Linked DNA regions of Homo sapiens: region 1 is linked to region 2. Evidence: fine-mapped expression QTL. A gene starts in region 2. The other region holds a variant in brackets. All regions are shown on one strand. Distances are between the middles of the regions. Region 1 overlaps DRC1 (dynein regulatory complex subunit 1). Region 2 holds the start of SELENOI (selenoprotein I).

The links. PIP is the estimated chance that this variant, and not a neighbour inherited with it, causes the effect.
Region 1: its variant is the best candidate, but not a certain one, in a credible set for the expression of SELENOI in whole blood (INTERVAL, PIP 0.66).

The regions. Positions count from the first base shown.
Region 1 is chr2:26,418,015-26,428,627 of GRCh38, reverse strand. It overlaps DRC1 (dynein regulatory complex subunit 1), which reads right to left. Exons shown (of 17, transcript NM_145038.5): 3 at 7,228-7,340; 4 at 4,174-4,357. Among named protein-coding and RNA genes, the nearest start is that of DRC1, 21 kb to the right of the region's middle. The variant G/A (reference allele first, on the strand shown) is at 4,814.
Region 2 is chr2:26,339,992-26,350,604 of GRCh38, reverse strand. It overlaps SELENOI (selenoprotein I), which reads right to left and starts at 4,462. Exons shown (of 10, transcript NM_033505.4): 1 at 4,316-4,462. The coding sequence starts at 4,372. ADGRF3 (adhesion G protein-coupled receptor F3) reads left to right here and starts at 3,816. Exons shown (of 14, transcript NM_001321971.2): 1 at 3,816-4,484. The coding sequence starts at 4,371. RefSeq lists enhancers at 3,558-3,657, 3,770-4,537, 4,858-4,997 and silencers at 4,198-4,247, 4,308-4,367, 4,418-4,647.

The DNA.
Region 1 (10,613 bases), 78 kb before region 2:
ACAGGGTTTCACCGTGTTAGCCAGGATGGTCTCGATATCCTGACCTCGTGATCCACCTGCCTCGGCCTCCCAAAGTGCTGGGATTACAGGCGTGAGCCACCGTGCCCGGCCATAATATGGTATTTTTACTGTGCCTTTTCTGTTTAGATACACAAATACTTAGCACTGCGTTACAACTGCTTACAGTATTCAGTACAGTAGCATTCCGGACAGGTTTGTAGCCTAGGAGCAATTAGTTATATCATATACCCTAGGTGTGTAGTAGGTTATACCATCTAGGTTTGTGTAAGCACATGTTATGATGTTCTCACAACAATGAAATCACCTAACAATGCATTTCTCAGAATATATCCCCATCATTAAGTGATGCATGACTGTATTTCTATTAGATAGCTAATAATTCTACAATTATGACAAAGCTTTTACTTCTAGTTAAAAGTTTATCCCTTGAAAAGACATCAAAATTGGAAGAGTTAAAATTATCTTTGTTCACAGATGACATGATCTTATATGCAGAAAAACTAAAGATTTCACACACAGGAAAACCTGTTAGAACTTAAATTCAGCAAAGTTGCAGGACACAAAATCAAAATTCAAAAATCACACTATTCACAATAGCCAAGAATTGGAATCAACCTAAGTGTCCATCAGCAGATGAATGGATAAAGCAAATGTGGTACCTATACACAAGGGAGTACTATTCAGCCATAAAAGAGAATGAGATCCTGTCATTTGCAACGACGTGGATGGAATTGAAAGGCATTACGTTAAATGAAATAAGCCAGGCACAAAAATTCAAACTTTGCATGTTCTCACTCATTTGTGGGAGCTAAAAATTAAAACAATTGAACTCGTGGAGATAGAAAGTAGAATGATAGTTAGCAGAGACTGAGAAGGGTAGTGTGGAGGGTCAGGGAGGAATGGGGATGGTTAATAGGCACAAAAATATAGTTAGAATGAATAAGATCTAGTATTTGACAGCATAACAGCGTGACTAAGGTCAGCTAGATTTATTGTACATTTTAAAATAACTAAAAGAGTATAACTGGAATGTTTGCAACACAAAGAAATGATACATGCTTGAAGTGATGGATACCCCATTTACCCCAATGTGATTATCACACATTGTATGGCTGTATCAAAATATCTTATATACCCCATAAATATATACACCTACCCATAAAATTTTTTAATTTTAAATTTAAAAAAAAAGCTCAGGTGCGGTGGCTCACAACTGTAATCCCAACACTTTGGAAGGTGGAGGTGGGTGGGTAATTTGAGGTCAGGAGTTTGAGACCAGACTTGGCAACGTGGTGAAATCCCATCTCTACTAAAAACACAAAAATTAGCTGGGCATGGTGATGTGCGCTTTAATCCCAGCTACTTGGGAGGCTGAGGCAGGAGGATCACTTGAGCCCAGGAGGTGGAGGTTGCAGTGAGCCAAGATCAGTCTACTGCACTCCAGCCTGGGTGACAGAGCGAGACTCTGTCTCAAAAAAATTAAATTAAATTAAATGTTTAAAAAATTTTAAATCAGTTGCATTCTTATATGCAAATAATGACCAATCCAAAATAGAAATTAAGAAAATAATCCATTTACTATAGCACCAAAAAGAATGAAATACTTAGGAATAAACTTAACAAAGTAGGCAAAAGCCTTGTACACTGAAAACTGTAAAACATTACTAAAAGAAATCAGAGAAGATATAAACAAATGGAAGATATCCTGTGCTTATGAACTGGATGACTCAATATTGTTAAAAATGTCCATACTATACAAAGTGATCTATAGATTCAGTGCAGTCCTTAACAAAATCCCAACATCATTTTTTGTGGAAATAGGAAAACCATCCTAAAATTTGTAAAATTCAGAATCTCAAGAGACTCCAAATTGCCAAAATAGTCTTGAGAAAAGAACAAAGTTGGAGGCCCCACATTTCCTGGTTTCAAAACATACTACAGGCTGGGCGCAGTGGCTCCTATCTGTAATCCCAGCATTTTGGGAGGCTGAGGTAGGTGGGTCACCTGAGGTCAGGAGTTCGAGACTAGCCTGGCCAAAATTGTGAAACTCCATCTCTACTAAAAATGCAAAAATTAGCCAGGCATGGTGGTGCATGCCTGTAGTCTCAGCTTCTCGGGAGGCTGAGGCAGAAGAATTGCTCTAACCCTAGAGACGGAGGTTGCAGTGAGCCGAGATCAAACCACTGCACTCCAGCCTGGGCGACAGAGCAAGACTCAGTCTCAAAAAAAAAAAAAATAAACAAAAACAAAACTGCAAAGAGCAACAGGAATTAAAGAATGTTGTACTGACATAAAAATAGATATATAGACCAAGGGAACTAGAGAGCCCAGAAATAAACCCCTACATATATGACCAAATGGCTTTGACAAGGGTCAAAATGATAAATGAATGATACATAAACCCCTGCATCTATGGTCAAATGACTTTTGACAAGACTATACAGTGGAGAAAGGATAGTCTCTTCAACAAATGATGTTGAGAAAACTGGATATTCACAGGCAAAAGAATGAAGTTGGGTCCTTACCTTATACCATATACAAAAATAACTCAAAATCGATTAAAGACCTAAAACTATTAAACTCCTAGAAGAAAATATAGAGGACAAGCTTTCTGCACATTGGATTTGGCCATAATTTCTTGGATATCACACCAAAATCCCAGGCAGCAAAATCAAAAATAGACAAACGGGGCTGCACCAAACTCAAAAATGTTTGCACATCAAAAAAAAAATCAAGACTAAGAAGGCAATATACGGAATAGGAAATCATAATTGAAAATCATATATCTGATAAGGGGTTAATGTCCAAAATACATAAAGAACTTCTATAACTCAAAAACAACCCAATTTAAAAATAAGCAAAGGATTTAAATAGACATTTCTCCAAAGATGATATACAAGTGACCAATAAACACATGAAAAACATGCACAACATCTCTAATCGTTACGGAAATGCAAATCCAAACCATAATGAGATATCGCCTCACACCATCAACACGGAAGCTATCAAAAAAACAGGATGTAAGTGTTAGTGAGAATACAGAGAAGTTAGAACCCTTGTGTACTGTTGGTGGGAATGTAAAATGGTGCAATCATTATAAAAAACAGTATGGAGGTTCCTAAGAAAATTAAAAATAGAATTACCATATGACCCAGCCATCCTGCTTTTAAGTATACATCCAAATAATTCAAAGAAGTATCTCAAAGAGATACGTGTATACCCATGTTCATAGCAGCATTACTCACAAAAGCCAAAACGTGAAATCCAACCCAAATGTCCATTCACAGGAGAATGTATAAAACAAGATGTGGTATATATATGCAATGAAATACTACGCAGCCTTAAAAAGGAAGGCAGTCCTGTCACGTGCTACAACGAAGTCCATCTATACTAAGCCAAATATGCTAGTCACAAAAGGACAAATGCTGTATGATTTCACTCACAGGAAGTATCTAATAGAGTAGTCAAAATCACAGAAACAGAAAGTAGAAAGGTGATTACCAAGGTCTAGGGGGAAGTGGAAGAGGGAATTGGTGTCTAAGGGGCATAGAATTTCCATGCTGCAAGATGAAAAAGTTCTTAGAGATCTATTGCATCTGAATGCTGTATACTTAACATGACTGAACTATACAGTTTTTTGGTTTTTGTTTTGAGACAGAGTCTCACTCCCTCTGTCACCCAGGCTGGAGTGCAGTGGTGCGATCTCGGCTCACTGCAACCTTTGTCTCCCATGTTAAGGCGACCCTCCTGCCTCAGCCTCCTGAGTAGCTGAGATTACAGGTATGTGCCACCATGCCCGGCTAATTTTTATATTTTTAGTAGAGATGGGGTTTCACCATGTTGGCCAGGCTGGTCTCAAACTCCTGACCTCAAGTTATCCGCCTGCCTCGGCCTCCCAGAATGCTGGGATTATGGGAGTGAACCACCTCATCCAGCCCATGAACTATACACTTTAAAATGGTTATGATGGCAAATTTAATGCTATGTGTTTCTTACCATCATGGAAAAAAGTTTATAACATGACTTGTACAGCATTCTAAATAATGAAGTAAAAGGTTTCTACATTTTTCCATTCAGGAAAAGCAAACCAGTAACCCAGCTAAATCCCAGGCAGATCCCCTGTGGCTGGGCTGGAGGGCCCGGGCCTCTTGCCTGCTGTAACTCGCTGATGAGTTTATTCTTATCTTCTAAGAGTCCAGCACAGTGCAGCTGTTGGGTATTGAGCATTTCCCACAGCTCTTGGGGAATTCTCTTCTGCTTGCCCTCTTCCCACTTTGAGGTGATTTCATCGAATTTGTCCTGGCTGGTCTTAACTTCATTCTCCAGCTTCTCAATCCTGCAAATACATACATGCCAGCCATGCCAACCCAGCTCCAGATGCTGCCTTCCAGTAGAGCAGGTACGTTCTCTAGAATCTCTAGAATATAAGACCCAGGTACTAGGCACTGCCCAAACACACCCGCCCAAAATCAAACTCAATGCTGAGAAATCTTTTCGTTTAACGCTTGACTGTAAATAACTTAGGCCAAGTAAAGAAAATGACACATAGCAAAAACAGATCAACATTAAGGCTACACACACACACACATACACACGCGTGCACACGCACACACACCAAGATCGATTGGTCACCTGCTTCTGAGTAAGATGATAACACACAACAGTTAAACACTGGGTCTCTGGAGTCACAGAGCTTATGTTCAAGTCCTGACTTGGCTCCTAACTGACTGTCAACCTTTCGGACAAGTTGCATAACTCCCTCAAGCCTCACTTTTCTCTTCTGTAAAATGGC[G/A]TGGATGAAAAGTATCTACCTTCAAGTGGCTGGCTGTTGTCAGGATGAAATAAGATGCTGCACACAGCACAGGTGCTCAGCATGGGAGTCACTTAACACATGGTGCTTAAATTATCAATTTTATATTAGCAACATGACCTCAAGTGTCTGGCTACTCCTCTCCCAAGTTACCAATAAATGACTAGTGGAATGTACAAATATGGAAACTCCACCAATGAGTGATGGAAAATAGGGACAGCCTTTCCATAAATTCCAAAGAACCTCCGTGATAGAGCACACCGAGGCTGGGGCGAGGTGGCAGGAAGGCAGGAGAGCTGAGCTGGGGCCCCTCTGGGAACAGTGGCTAAGATATCTGCCAGAGACTCTCTGCTCCTTGTAACAGACTAATCCTATGAGAGCACCTCCAAACAAACCCCCTGAGGAACCGAAGTCACAGCTTAAACATCCTGCAATCCCCTCTTCCTGTCCCATCCCCCACCCACCCCACCTTCCAAGCTAGGACACTTTTTTAATTTAATTGACTTTTTTATTTCAAGAAATGAGAAAGAGCTGTCAGGTCATCTTTCCGCAGCACACTGACCTTGTAACCTGCCACCTGGGACCTTCAGCATTCCTCTGTGGCTAGAGGACAAGGCCTAACTCCTTGCATGACCTTCCCTGCCTTTCACAAGCTGACCCTGCTGGGAATCTGCCGACTCCATTCCTGGCACAGCCCATACAGGCAGTGGGAAGTTTCGAGAATAAAAGTCACCCACGTTTACTGGTAGGGCTGCTAAAGTTGCTAAAGAGGGAACTGCTTATGCTGAACAACTAAAAATATTGTTAAAATCGACCCCTGTGTGTATATGATGAGACAAAATGGTCAAGTGGTTGCCTTTTTTTTTTTTTTTTTTAAAGACTAGGTTTCACTCCCATTGCCTAGGCTGGAGTCCAGTGGCACACTCTTGGCTCACTACAACGTCCACCTCCTGGGCTCAAGTGATCCTCCTGCCTCGGCCTCCTGAGTACTGGGACTACAGGTGTGCACGCGCCACCACACCCAGCTAATTTTTTGTGTTCTTAGTAGAGACGGAGTTTCACCATGTTGGCCAAGCTGGTCTTGAACTCCTGACCTCAAGCAATCCGCCTTCCTCGGCCTCCCAAAGTGCTGGGATTACATGCGTGGGCCACCCCGTGCCTGGCCAAGTGGTTGTTCTTCTAATTGTTTAAGAAATTAATTGAAGAACAATCCAAAGCTTAAATGAGGACCTGCTATCAGTCTACTTCTGTGTGCAAACCAAAGAAGTTTAATTCTTCTAAGCCGCTTATGCCTCCCTGCTGGACAGCCTGAGACCTGGGACATGGGCGTGCAGGGCAGCCTGCCTCCTGAGGACTGGAGCTGAGGACTTGACGCAGGTTCTTGTGATCCCTGTGAACCTCCATCCTTCTATGCATGGAGCCCTCAATATTCTTTAATAATGCTGCCACCTTTACACATAACACTGAGGTATTCGTGGGTCTGGTCATTCTCACCAATTGAAACCCAGGACTGCCCAGTTGACCTTCTTAGCCTCTTCTCTTTTCTTCCATTACCCGCATACATCCTTCGCTATCATGCCATTCCCAAGCACATCATGTGATCTCACACCTCTGCTCAAGTGTTCCCTCTGCCTAAAATGCCTACTCTTCAATTCCTCAAATTCCTATTCATCCCTCACAGCCCAGCTCAACGTCACCTTGCCTGGGAAGTTTTCTGTAATCTCTGCAGATAGAATTAAAGGCCTCCTTGTGTGTGTTACTACAACCCTTTACACATTATCTATTTTACCACGAATTATGGGTGTTTCCATGTGTCTCTTGACTAGACTGTGAATACCACAAACAGAGGCCGTGTTTCACTCCTTTTGTATACACACAGCTTGGCACGTATCAGCAATGTAGTGCTTGAGGAGGGGAGGAAAGAAAAGAGATGAGATAGCCGGGCGCGGTGGCTCACGCCTGTAATTCCAACACTTTGGGAGGCCAAGGCGGGTGGATCACGTGAGGTCAGTAGTTCGAGACCAGCCTGGCCAACATGGTGAAACCCCGTCTCTACTAAAAATACAAAATTAGCCTGGCTTGGTGGCGCATGCCTGTAATCCCAGCTACTCAGGAGGCTGAGGCAGGAGAATCACTTGAACCTGGGAGGTGGAGGTTGCGGTGAGCCGAGATCACGTCATTGCACTCCAGCCTGGGCAACAAGAGCGAAACTCTGTCTCAAAAAAAAAAAAAAAAAAAAGAGAGAGAAAGAAGAGGAGGGAGGGAGGGAGAAGTTATAAGGGCAGGAAGGGAATTGTCTAAGGTGGACAAAGTCACCCTCCAACAATTCGGGAGAACTGCCGGACCCATGGAGATTACCTTCATGTCCACCAGCTGCAGAGTAGCACAGTCCTTACCTTTGACGCTTTATCTCCTCTTCTTCGACTCTCCTGTGAATCTCTCTGATATCTATAGCCACCTGGATATTTGTCACCAACTCGGTGCCACAGAGCAGAAGTTTAGCCAATTTCTAAAAAGAGAGATATAAGAATTTACAAAGCTAGAACACTTTGTAAATAATATATAAAGTCTGAAACATTTTTGCACAACTGTCCGCAGCTTCTATCCATTCAAGCAGGAAGCAGCAACTACCTTAAGATTTTTAAGAGTAGCCTCTGTGTAGCAACCCTTTTCTATCAGGACATTTGTGATGTGATTTTACAGCTCACAATTTAAAAGCACTCTGCAGTTCTTGGCCAGGCACAGTGGCTCATGCCTGTAGTCCCAGCACTTTGGGAGGCCAAGGTGGGTGGAGCATTTGAGGTCAGGAGTTCGAGACCAGCTTGGCCAACATGGTGAAACCCCATCTCTACTAAAAATTCAAAAATTAGCCAGGCATGGTGGCGGGTGCCTGTAATCCCAGCTACTCAGCAGGCTGAGGCAGGAGAATCATTTGAACCTGGGAGGCAGAAGTTACAGTGAGCCAAGGTCACGCCGCTACACTCCAGCCTGAGCAACAAAGTGAGACCCTATCTCAGAAAAAAAAAAAAAGAAGAAGAAAAAGAAAGAAAAAAGAAAAAGAGAAAGAAAAGTCCAGTATCCAGTCATAATATGATGAGGCCTGGAGAAAAGCCACTGCGTTTGGCTAGAAGGGCATCATTAGTATCCTACTGTGGTAAGTTTTTGTCCAATCCTGGGCAAAATAAAAAATTTTAAAAAAAGCACTCTGCAGTTCTCAATGTACTTTATTTATTCACTGTAGAGAAGGCACCAGCCAACTTTTATACCAGCAGATATTGTACATTCATCTCAGCCTTGTCCCCAGCAGATCTCCAAGTGACTGACACTGCCGGGAGCCTTTCGAAGAACCTCAGTTGGGGAGGTGAGGCAGGTAATGACAGTGAGGCAGATAATGACAGTGAGGCAGATAATGACAGTGAGGCAGGTAATGACAGCTGTGCTCCCATGTCCATTTCTCCCTCTCCTTTTAGTAACAGAACACTCAAATTTTTGCTGGGATGTGGCTTCCCAAAATAGGTACCTTTCCCAGCCTCCCTTGCACCTAGAATACTATCTGATCAGTGACACAGGAGAAGTAATGTGTGCCACTTCTGAATTGTGACTTTAAGGGGAAAAGGTGTACCCTCTGCTGCCCCACTTCTGCCCCTTCTCCCAGGCTGGCATGTGGGGCTCAAGTAAAAGGTGATGAGCAGATAAAGGCAACTCAAGCAATGGCAGAGGGAGCTGAGGTCCCATCATCAAGCAGACCCCATCCATGTGAGCCCTGGACTACTTATACTCGGAACTGTTGAGACAGAGAAACAAGCTTCTGTCCTGCTGCAGCTAATGATATGTGGAGTCTTTCATTACATGGATTCTAAGGCAGGAAAAGATTGTAGCTGGCTGCACTGCTGTCTCCTTAATGGGCTCAGGGATTTTGTAATTGGTGCCATCCTTCTAAATCCCTCTTCGTAAATTCCATCTCCAGTATCTTCACTCCTAGCCTTGTTGTGATGTTATTCAAGATGATAAATCCTCTCAACAAAAAGTTCGAGTATCCTTAGGTTATGCCTAAGTTTTTTCAAGTCTTTTTGGAACTTATGAACTCTCCAACTCTCAAATAATTTTTAAACTAGGAACCTATAAAACTTCTACACCAAGGAGTCACAGAAATGACCAGAGACTTCACTTGATCTCACTATTATATGAAAAATTTGAAATGTAGTTTCATTGAATACAGAACAGAGCTTTAACCCAGATATCCAGGGCACTCTAGATTTTTTGTTAATGCCTGCAGTTTTATCACTTGTACAAAATGGTTTTACGTGCATAAGGAAGTAATGGCTTTCCTGCAGTTTGGGGTTATTTTCTAGTTTCTACTCAATGTGAACATCAGAGAGTTCTGTATAAGTACCATGTGCTAACCAATTACTGGAGTTCCAGAAATTTCTGAATCAAGTATTTAAGACTCAAAGTAAAATTAAAAATCCAAATGTCAGCCACCAACAGACCAAAATGCCCCTCACCTTTATGAGATCCAGGGAAAGCATTTAAATGGAGGTCCACATACCATATGTCTAAATATTTTTAAATTATAGTATCATGTAAAAATTGTTAAATAAAACATTCAGCCGGGCATGGTGGCTCACACCTGTAATCCCAGCAATTTGGGAGGCCAACACGGGCGGTTCACCTGAGGCCAGGAGTTCAAGACCAGCCTGAACAACATGGTGAAACCCCGTCTCTACTAAAAATATAAAACTTAGCCAGGCATGGTGGTGCACACCTATAGTCCCAGCTACTTGGGAGGCTGAGGCAGGGGAATCGCGTGAACCCAGGAGGTGGAGGTTGCAGTGAGCTGAGATCATGCAACTGTACTCCAGCCTAGGTGACAGAGTGAGACTCTGTCTCAAAATATATATATAATATAATATATATAATATATAATGTTGTATATATAATATATAATATGCTTTATATATACTATATATTATATATACTATACAATATATTATAATGTATATATGTATAAATATATAAATTATACATAATATATAAAAATATAATTTATATTATATATAAATTAAATATAATTTATATATTATATAAATTAAATATAATTTATATATAATATAAATTATATTTAATTTATATAATATATAATTTATATATTATATAAATTATATATAATTTATATTATATATAATTTATATATTATATAAATTATATATAATTTATATATAATATATATTATATATAAATTATATATAATTTATAATATATTGTATATTATTAATATATAATATATATTTAAACTATATTTTATATATATCCTCCTATCACAATACCTTTATGACAATTTAAAAGTCCTAGTTTGAATTCAGACACACCTCAGAGTTCTACTGATAACTGGGTGGCTAAGGAAGAGCCTGCCTCTGGCCACAGCTCCCAGCCCACCCCCAGCTCTGTCCTGCAGGCATGCGGATTTCCCCAACTGCACATCCAAGCTCCATCTATACCCTGTGGCCATCTGTTAGCCCCAGGGGTTGCATAACATTGGCCTCATCTGCCCTGAGCAGGACAGACTCCGGGAAGAGGCACATATAGGTTGAAGGTGGGCTCAAAGTCATTTGGACGGGGAATTTTGGCTCCCATCGGACTCAGTAATCTAGAGGGGACAATGGGGGTTTGAAGGGACATGGGACAAGTCTACTTGAGGGGATGTATCCGCAGGAAATCCAGAGCAGAACCTGGACCCCCATCGTCACCAATTTTTTAATGAGCTGGAGCTCATTAAATGAGC
Region 2 (10,613 bases):
TTAATTTTGCAGCCCAAATGCTATGCCTGACACTGAGTAGACCCTCAATAAATGCTTGTTGAATAAACAAAATCAAACTGTATGATGGCCAGGCACGGTGGCCCCTGCCTATAATCCCAGCACTTTGTGAGGCCAAGGGAGGAAGATCACCTGAGGAATTCAAGGCTGCAGTAAGCTATGATCGCACCACTGCACTCCAGCCTGGGCGACAAAGCAAGACCCTGTCTCTAAAAAAAGATAAGAATGAAAATAATTTTTTATGAAATTTTCAGGAACTAGTAAGGTTAAAGGCCAGATTCTGGTTCTTTAGTATTACCATTAAGATGCAAACACAATCTCTCTTTACCACCTCTAATTGTAATACTAATAAATTCACAATTATCATGATTCCTATAATCAGGCTGTTGTTGAGAGCCAAGTTAATTAATTACCATAATATCAAAAACCAGTTCATCATGAAACTATATATATATTTATACACACACACTTTTTTTTTTTGAGTCAGGGTCTTTCTCTGTTGCTCAGGCTGCAAAACAGTGGCACAATCATAGCTCACTGCAGCTCAACTTCCAGACTCAACTGATCCTCCCACTTCAGCCTCCCAAGTAGCTAGGACCATAGGCACGTGCTACCATGCCTGGCTAATTTTTTTTTTTTTTTTTTTTTTTTTTTGTGGAGATGAGGTCTCACTATGTTGCCCAACTTCTATCCTCAAGCCATCCTCCCACCTCAGCCTCCGGAAGTGTTGGGATTACAGGCATGAGCCACTGTGCCCAGACAAATAACTTTCTCGAACCAACCAAACAAGATATTTCACAGAATATTTCCTCCCTTAGGCAAAATGATACAATTTCAAAGTAGCTGCTACACTATCAATTAAAACTTTGCCTTCCCAAATGATGAGCAAACCAGGACAAAAAAAAAAAAAAAAAAACCAACTTGCAGTTTCACCCTTAGATAAGTGGGGAAAAATCCCTCAACTATAAAGACCTGTCCAAGGGCTGGGCACGGTGGCTCACGCCTTTAATCCCAACACTTTGGGAGGCCGAGGTGGGTGGATCACCTGAGGTCAGGAGTTCGAGACCAGCCTGGCCAACATGTGAAACCCTGTCTCAAAGAAAAATACAAAAATTAGCCGGGCATGGTGGCAGGCGCCTGTAATCCCAGCTACTCAGGAGGCTGAGGCAGGAGAACTGCTTGAACCCGGGAGGCGGAGGCTGCAGTGAGCTGAGATCGCGCCACTGCACTCCAGCCTGGGCGACAAAAGCAAAACTCCATCTCAAAAAAAAAAAAAAAGACAAGTGTGGTGGCTCATGCCTGTAATCTCAGCACTCTGGGAGGCCAGGGCGGATCACCTGAGGTTGGGAGTTCGAGACCAGCCTGACCAACATGGAGAAATGCACCGCTACTAAAAATACAAAGTTAGCCAGGTGAGGTGGTGCATGCCTGTAATCCCAGCTACTCGGGAGGCTGAGACAGGAGAATCGCTTGAACGCAGGAGGCGGAGGTTTCAGTGAGCTGAGATCGCGCCATTGCACTCCAGCCTGGGCAACAAGAGCAAACCTCCATCTCCAAAAAAAAAAAAAAAAAAAAAAAAAAAAAAAAAAAGCCTGTCCAAAACAAAGGATGGGTAGAGGCAAAAATAAGGCTGAAATCCTTCAGTATAATTCTCTGAAGTTACCTTAGTTAATAAGCAACAGAGAACAATGGCAGTTAAACCTGATATCTTCACATTTAAAATACAAAAGCACCCTTTCAATATCCAGACATAGAGCTCCTTTTTTTTTTTTAACCATACTTCCAAAATGGTTGATTCTTTTACATTCTCATTCCTTCAATATTTGTTTAGCACTTACTCTGTTCATGGTACTGTGCTAGACCTCAGTCATGTTATTAAAGAAAAAAAAAAAAAAGTCAGCCATAGGGCCTGCCCTCTTAAAGCTCACGTCCTAAAAGAGAAAGTAGACATTCAACTAATAGTCAACTAACTGTTTAATACAATTGCGTTAAGTAACACAATAGCGAATGCAAGTGTCAATACATAACACAGAATCCATCCCACGCTCTTCCATACCAAAAATCAATTGTCTTATAGTTTCCTGCTTCAGAAACCTAATTTCCACTCCCCGTGTGCACCCCTTTCAGCAGTTATTCTGTATATCTGTCAGGTTTCCAACTGTAGCTCTCAGATATACCTCTAGGGAAGATAAATTAAACTACTTCAAAAGTAATTTTTCCACCAACTGCTTTTGTAGTGTCAGTTCTTCTTTACATCCCTCTTATAAAGCATCACATGAGGGAATACAAAATATCTTTTGAGTGTTTTCAATCTTTACCCATTTATGGGGAAAAAAGACTTTTTAAAATAAGCATTTATAAAGCGCTTACTATCTGAAGACAACATAAGGGGAACGCAACGATAAGAAAAAAAGATCTGTGAGATTTGTGTTCAAGCAAAACTGATCCCATGGATTTTTCCTTTGGATACCACTGGATTCATAATTTTAATATAAATGCAGTATTGAGTAATTGCAATAGAAGAATATTTAGGTTATAAATGTGTGCTTTTTTTTCCCCAAGGAAGCCTCATTATAACTAAAATGATATCAACAAACTATTTTAGTGAACATTGGACGCTTGCTAAATCGACCTTTGTTTTCCAGGATGATAGGAAGTCATCTGCTGTCAGATACAGGAACTTATATAATAAAAAAGGGGGAAAGATCAGAACAGAAAATTACACGAAACTTCTAGTAAATTAAGACACTTATTTAGTTGAAAATATAAATCTAGGGAAGATTCTTTATAAGAAAAAGGAGATTTCCTATTATAAACACTGCTCCCATTGAAATAGCTATTTTATTGGCACTTAGAAAGTCAGACCCTAGTAAGGAAGAAAATGTTTTATATGTCAATATTTACCCTGCAGAACAGACAACAAAAGGGGAGTAGAGCTTAAGGCAAAACAGGAGGTATCTGGGTTAACAGCCTTCTAAAATGAAAGTTGAAAAGCACTGGCCCGAGTTACCAAGAAGGCTCTGGACCCTCTTTCCACTTAAAATGTTAAGACAAGTCATCACCTCGGTTCAGAATGGTATGGCACAATACGGCTTGAAAGCAGAGAAACATGCTATGTGACCTTCTAAGGACCCTTGCTTTTTTTTTTTTTAACTCGAGTTAAACAAAATCCATTATGACTTTTTCAGTTATTCATTCATTCCACAAATGCTTACTGGGTGCCTAGTATGCACATAGCACTGTGCTTAAGCCATGATGGTCCACAAGAAAACTCTAATGAGTTGGGCATTATATTCTAATGGCGAGACACGCTAAAGCAGCAATTCCATAAACGAACAGAGCGCACATTTAAGGGGGAAAGGGGCACGTAGGGAGGGCTTCTTTGAGGAAGCAATATTTAAGCTAAGATGTGAAGATGAACGGGTAACAACAAGGATGAAGGGTTAAAGCCCATATTTCAGGCTTGGTCGACTGGATGGTTAGAGTCATTCATTGGTAAAGGAACTGCGGATGGGAACCAGATTTGGAGGAAAGTTAACCACCCGCATTTATTTACTGGGGTCCTAGTATGTTGCCAAGCGCTTCACAAATTCCTCTAATCATTTTGCACAGCAGAAGCTATTACTTTCAGTTTCATACACAAAAGAGAGGCTGAGCGGGGTTAAAATGACGTGCCCAAGACGAAATAAAGAAATCTGACTTTTGTAATCAGGTTTGTATGTGCTCGAAAGCCCGCGCTCTTTCCACTCCACAGCTCCTTCCTGTGCACCTCCCTTTCATCTGGTGGCCCTAGCGCCACAAGCTGCCGCTTAGGAAGTCCCTGCCGGGAGCAGAAGTGGAGACATCAGCAGGATGGCATCGGCAAGTCGCTCCCCTCCCGGGCCTCATCTGCCAAACGATCATCTCCTCCTCCGAAGTTGTATGCATGACAGGCGAGTGGAAACTTCACTAAAATGAAGGCGATTGACACAACAGAAGGAACTCCATCCTTTCGGGGGCTTACGAAAATAATAAGTTTAAAAAAAATAGGAAGGGAATTCCCTCGCTCCATGATCACTGAGCGCTCTCCTAAGGAAAAGGAAATCTCCCGGGGGGTGCCGACTACGGGCGGCGGGCTTAGGATGCTCCCACGCTCCCCGACCCCCAATCCCCAGGACCCGCAGGACCTCCGGAGGAACGCCCGCCAGCCCGCCCGGAGCCACGCGGCACAAGGTGACACGGACCGCGCCGCGCGGGCCCCTCAGCCGCCTGGGCGAGGCCGGGAGCAGGGAGAGGGGCATCCGCCGGCCCGCGGTACCTTGTACTTATCAAAGCCAGCCAGCTGCTCCGGGCTCACGTATTCGTAGCCAGCCATGACGACCCGAAAACTGAGCGCCCACTCGGCAGCGACTCCCGGCTACAAGGCTGTGACACACAAGCACCACACCGGCTGGGCAAGGATGGCAAAGACTGGGCTGCCCGAGAAGGTAGGAGAGCCGCGCTCCGCCCACCGCGCACGCGTAGCCGCCTCGGCCCCTTCGGCCGCCTCTCAGTGCGCAAGCGCAGCCCACGCTTCTCCCCGCCCATCGAGGGGGGGTTGCTAGCCCGCTCGAGCGGCCCGTCCCCCGACACTGCTGTTGTCCAATCGGCGTGGATCAGGCAACACTAAGTCCCGCCTTCCAGCTCTCTTCGTCGCTTCATTTGCTAGCGTCAAAATTGGTGAGCTGAGGTAAGGCAAGAGAGGGGGTGAAAGGTCAATTTCCCAGCGGGCTTTGCTCCCGGTCCCGGGGGAAGGTGGGATTTCTGTGGTATCCGCACTTGCGTGGTGATCTGGGGTATACCGTTTTAGTCTTGGGGGTAGAGTGACTGCTTGCGAACCAGTTCAGCAGTGCCTCAGGTAAGAGGACTTAGTTCTCCCGCTGCAGCGAAGTAAAAGAGGAAGGAGGTCTGTACCGCGAGCCGCTCCCAGCTCCTGGTGCGGTGCGCTGCGTGCCGTAGAAATTTAGTAAACGTGGTTAGATGTAGAGAAGGCCGAGCTGCTGCCGGGGCCACGGGAGTCTTTGTGCGGTCAGCAGAGGGACTTGAAAGACAGGTGAAAGGACATTGGAGACAAGCCCCTCAGGTCTATGTTGCTTAGGAACCTTGGACCGCCTCATCGCACTCCGCTCTATCAAACCGTTCCAAATTAAGATTGCTGGTGTCTCCCGACCAGATAAAAGCAGTGATCTCTCAGTCTCGACGAGTCCTTAAATGCGTTTGCAAGAGGTGTTTTACATAACTGGAGCCCAGTTAATTGTAAAACAAACAAACAAACAAAAAACACTAGATCAATGGCTAGTGAGTATCTACTAATAAAATTTTATAATAGTTGCTGCTTTTTATTGAGCGCCTTCTGTGGGGAGAACTTCACATACATTATCAACCCCATAACAACACTGAAGTGAAAGGCATTATCCCCTTTTTCAGATTAGGCAGCCTGCCCAGAGTCACTTAGTTACGAAGCTCGGAAATGATCGACCCAACATGAAATGAGTTCTGTGTTATGGGAAACCACTACTTCAGGGAGCCTTTCAGTCTCTCTGGGTCTCTGAAATAAGGGCGATTATTTTGAGATACTTTTATGTTCATTCGTTTAACAACTATTTATTGGGGACCCGAGATATGCCAAACACAGTATTATTACTACATGTCTAATCTCCCCTCCTAAAGCATGATTCTTAGAAAGTAATAGATAATCTTATACCTGGTATATGGTAGATAATAAGCTTCTCCCCGCCCCCTGAGACAGGGACTGACTCACCCAGGCTGGAATGCAGTGACGTGATCACGGCTCACTGCAGCCTCGACCTCCCCTGGCTCAGGTGATCTTGCTTCCGTCTCCCAAGTAGCTAGAACTACAGGCGCACACCACCACACCCGGCTAAATTTTTTGCATTTTTTGAAGAATGGGCGCCCGCCAACCAATAAACTTCAGTGTCCTTTATCACACTTGCCCTCGAGGGCAGTATTTGCATCTTATACATCTTAATTTTCCCCATGTTCCATAACCCAGGGGGCTTGCAAATAATACATGATCAACGTATTTTATTGAATGAATGAGCAAAGATCTCTTTGATATGCTGTGAAGTACCAGTTTTGAGAAGAACATTAGAAATGAGAGTCTCGGCCAGGCGCGGTGGCTCACGCTTGTAATCCCTACACTTTGGGAGCCTGAGGTGGAGGGATTACTTGCGATCAGGAGTTTGAGACCAGCCTGGACAATATGGTGAAACCTCGTCTCAACTAAAAATACAAAAACTAACCGGGTGTGGTGGCACGCGCCTGTAGTCCCAGCTACTCAGGTTATTGAGGCAGGAGAATCGCTTGAGCCTGGGAGGTGGGGTTACGGTGAACCGAGATTGTGTCACTGCGCTCCAGCCTGGGCGACAGAGCAAGACTCCGTCTCAAAAACAAAACCAAAAAAACCCTTCATACTTGTAAAACTTAGTTAATTGTGGAAAGCCATAAAATGTGACTTCAGTGCAAGCTAATAATAGTTTATAAACTGCACTTATTGTTTATCAGTTCAGATATAAGCAAACTCAAAATGACATGATTGATTCTTAAAATTGTTTTCTACCTCTGATATTTTCTTTAAAAGCACTTTTTAAAACAGTAACTTTTAATTTTGTGAAAGCAGTTACAATTTGCTGCTTCTCTGCATAAGGTTGTAACAAGTTTGAATCAATTATAAATTCATCTGATAATTTATAAGCTGAAGCATAACCCAGAAATTGGTTTATACTTTGACATGTTACTGGCTGTGTAATCTCAGACAACTTACTTCACTTAGCCCCAGTACTCTTTTTCAAAAAGAGGGTATTTGGGCCGGGCGCCGTGGCTCACGCCTATAATCCCAGCACTTTGGAAGGCCGAGTCGGGCGGATCACGAGGTCAGGAGATCGAGACCATCCTGGCTAACACGGTGAAACCCCGTCTCTACTAAAAATATAAAAACAAAATTAGCCGGGCGTGGTGGCGGGTACCTGTAGTCCCAGCTACTCGGAAGGCTGAGGCAGGAGAATGGTGTGAACCCGGGAGGCGGAGCTTGCAGTGAGCCGAGATCGCGCCACTGCACTCCAGTCTGGGTGACACAGCGAGGCTCTGTCTCAAAAAAATAAAAAAAAAAAAGATCATTTGATCCTAAGATCTAATTCGATCCATTAGAACCTATTAGGTACTACGATCCTATTCATCTCTGAAATTCAGTGAAACTGTATATCATATAACTTCTCTGAGATTAAGTCATCTCATCTGGGAAATCTTGTCTTACCTACAATGATATGGCCCCAGTCTGTTCAATTAAATTCATACAAATTTAAGATATTAGTCATGCTCCATATAACCATGTTTCCGTCAATGAGGGACCACATGTGGTCCCTTAAGATTATAGTGGAGCTGAAAAATTTCTGTCATCTAGTGACATCCTAGCTGTCAAAATGTTGTAACACAAGGCATTACTCACGTTCGTGGTAATGCTAGTGTAAACAAACCTACCGCGCTGCCAGTCATCTAAAAGTATAGCACATATAATTATGTACACTACTGAATACTTGATAATAACTAACTGTCTTACTGGCTTTTGTATTTACTATCAGAGCATATCCTGTCATTAAGTGATGCATGACTGTATTTTCGCAGAATTCTGTGAATCCTAAACCCGGCAGGCATGGTCACGTGGGAAGAGAAAAATGTCATGGAAACAAATTTGCCTTTGGAACTAAGTCACCTTTCTGTTTCCTCGTTCCCAAATTTTATTCCAGGAGGCATTTTTCCCTAAGGCAGCCCAGCTGCCCCGGACTGCTTTAGATTGGCCTTGTTATTCCCATCTGTGCTCTACACGCCACATTCCTGAGTGTAGTTTATTATTGCTTTGTTTCCCATGTCTGCCTCTTCATCCATTGAAGTTTATTTCTTCTACATCTTGTACACTCAAGATCAGGCATTTTGCCTTCCAGAATAATAATCATAGAAAATATCAATTCGTGCTAGAAACAATATTTTTATTTTTATAATATAACCAAAATAAAGTGTTTTAAGTTCCTGGAGTGCCTGTTTTATTTAGTCTGAATAAGAGTGTATCAGATAAATGGAGACAGCCAAAAAATATTGGAGGTTAATTAAGGACTAATGTAGTTAATAACTCCAATATAAGTTACTGAAGCCATAAAAATGGGCAGGGTCTTCCAAAGAAGTTTGTAAAAAGGTATTGATTTAGTTCTCATTTTAAAATAAAAATGAATGCCTTATACACATAAACTCTGGTTCTCAAAGCAGTTTCACATGACTAACAATCCTGAGCCATGGGCCTGATGGCTGTTCCAATTGTATAGAGTGGAACAATAGAATAGTAATATATCTTACCAAAAGTCACCCAGGAAAGAGGAACACAGGTCATCAGACTTTTAGTTGAATAATTTTCCACTACACTATGCTTCTACAAGTTGATGGTAAGATATTAAAAAAAAAAAATCACAAGTCAGTTGTTTTTTTTTTGAGATGGAGTCTTGCTCTGTCGCCTAGGCTGGAGTGCAGTGGCGCAATATCAGCTCACTGCAATCTCCGCCTCCCGGGTTCACGCCATTCTCCTGCCTCAGCCTCCCAAGTAGCTGGGACTACAGGCACCTGCCACCATGCCCGGCTAATTTTTTGTATTTTTAGTAGAGACGGGGTTTCACCGTGTTGGCCAGGATGGTCTCGATCTCCTGACCTCGTGATCTGCCCGCCTCAGCCTCCCAAAGCGCTGGGATTACAGGTGTGAGCCACCGCGCCCAGCTCACAAGTCAGTTTTTAATCAAATTCCAGCATGCTGAAAGGCTGAGAAAGGAGGGTCCCTTGAGCCCAGGAATTCAAGACCAGCCTGGGCAACATAGGGAGACCCTGTCTCTACCAAAAAAAACAAAAAGGAACTCCCCAGTTATTATAGTAAATCTTCTCAAGTGGGGTTTTGTTTGCCTGTTTTTTGCTATATTTTACATTTTTCAATCATAATCCTCTTAGGTAAGAATGTAAAGGGAACTGTATGAGTGGGTCATCAGTCATATTTTTGTCACAGAAAAAGTCTACGCAATATAATGAGATTCAGCGTAAGCTAATACCTCCTACTTCCTATGTTGCTGGGGGAGGATGGTGTCTCTGCTATTTTGTGACTTATTCTCAACTAGCTTCTCAGTGGTGTTTGTTTGTTTCTCAAGATGGAGCCTCATTCTGTTGCCCAGGCTGGAGTGCAGTGGCGCGATCTTGGCTAACCGCAACCTCTGCCTCCTGGGTTCAAGCGATTCTCCTGCCTCAGACTCTGAGTAGCTGGGACTACAGGCGCCCGCCACCATGCCTGGCTAATTTTTGTATTTTTAGTAGAGATGGGGTTTCACTATGTTGGCCAGGCTGGTCTCAAACTCCTGACCTCAGGTGATCCACCCACCTTGGCCACACAAAGTGCTGGGATTACAGGCGTGAGCCACCTTGCCCGGTCTTCTCAGTGGTTTTATGGCCATTTTTGTGGTCTTAACCTACCAAACCAGTAGTGTCAGTAGTCATTCGAAGTCTAGAGACAGTTTAAACATTCAGAGGGACCCAGTGTGATATGAGGCAAGAGTAAAATCACAGGTCTAGTAATTTAGACCATCTACATATTTGCCATTCTTTTTTTTTTGAAGGCAAGTGATTGTTTCTTTGTTATAACCATTACTCATGAGCATGTCTGTTAAATAAAAGAAGCATTATTTTAAAAACTGATTGCAGGCAAAGTTTTACACTGGGCAAAGTCTTATTTTCATCATTCTTGAAGTTCTGGTAGTGAACCAGCATCTGTATTCTATGAATGGAGGAAGAATTAATACCTCTCCCACACACACATCCTCCTCCCCTTTATTACTCCACTAAAACGGAAGCAGAACTGTAGGTAAAGAGAGAACAAATCATTCAGATGAGTAGCCGTAGGGGCATCACCTCTGCGATCCTTTCTCTTTATTTTTGTTTGGCAATGTTAATCTCATCTAATGTCAGGTATGCAGATGCAACCAAATGTAACCACTGTTCTTTTTTAATTTCAGTTTGAACACACAGCTGTGCAAGGGCCTTCATTTTTGAATGAGGATTATTTTCACCTTCATGAAACTTTGAGATTATTGGATCAATGGTCATTCGGTTTTGGTGAAAGAGAAAGTCACTAGGAGAAAAAAAAAATCCTAAGTGGAACAAGAGAGTAAAGAACATTGTTATAATTCATATAATTCATTTTTCCTATAGGAATTCTGGAAATACTGGGGTTAAGGCAACAGTGGCCAACATAGAGCTCTACTACCTAAGACTTTCACTTTTTCCTTGACATGTATAACTAAGGCTATGTGGCCTGTTTGACCAGAACTCTAATGGAAGCTGGCTCTATTTTTTTTTAAATCAGACACTGTTGTCTATAAGTCTAGAAAACAAGATATACAAATAGGAAACAATATGTAAAATTGCAATTGAACACAGGTCGGGATGCTCACTGCTTGCAGAGTCTAACAAGAGCGAAGTCTGGTAGAAAGAAAATGATTTGATTAACCAAAACTGGTAAAGGGAAAGTGGCCAGATTT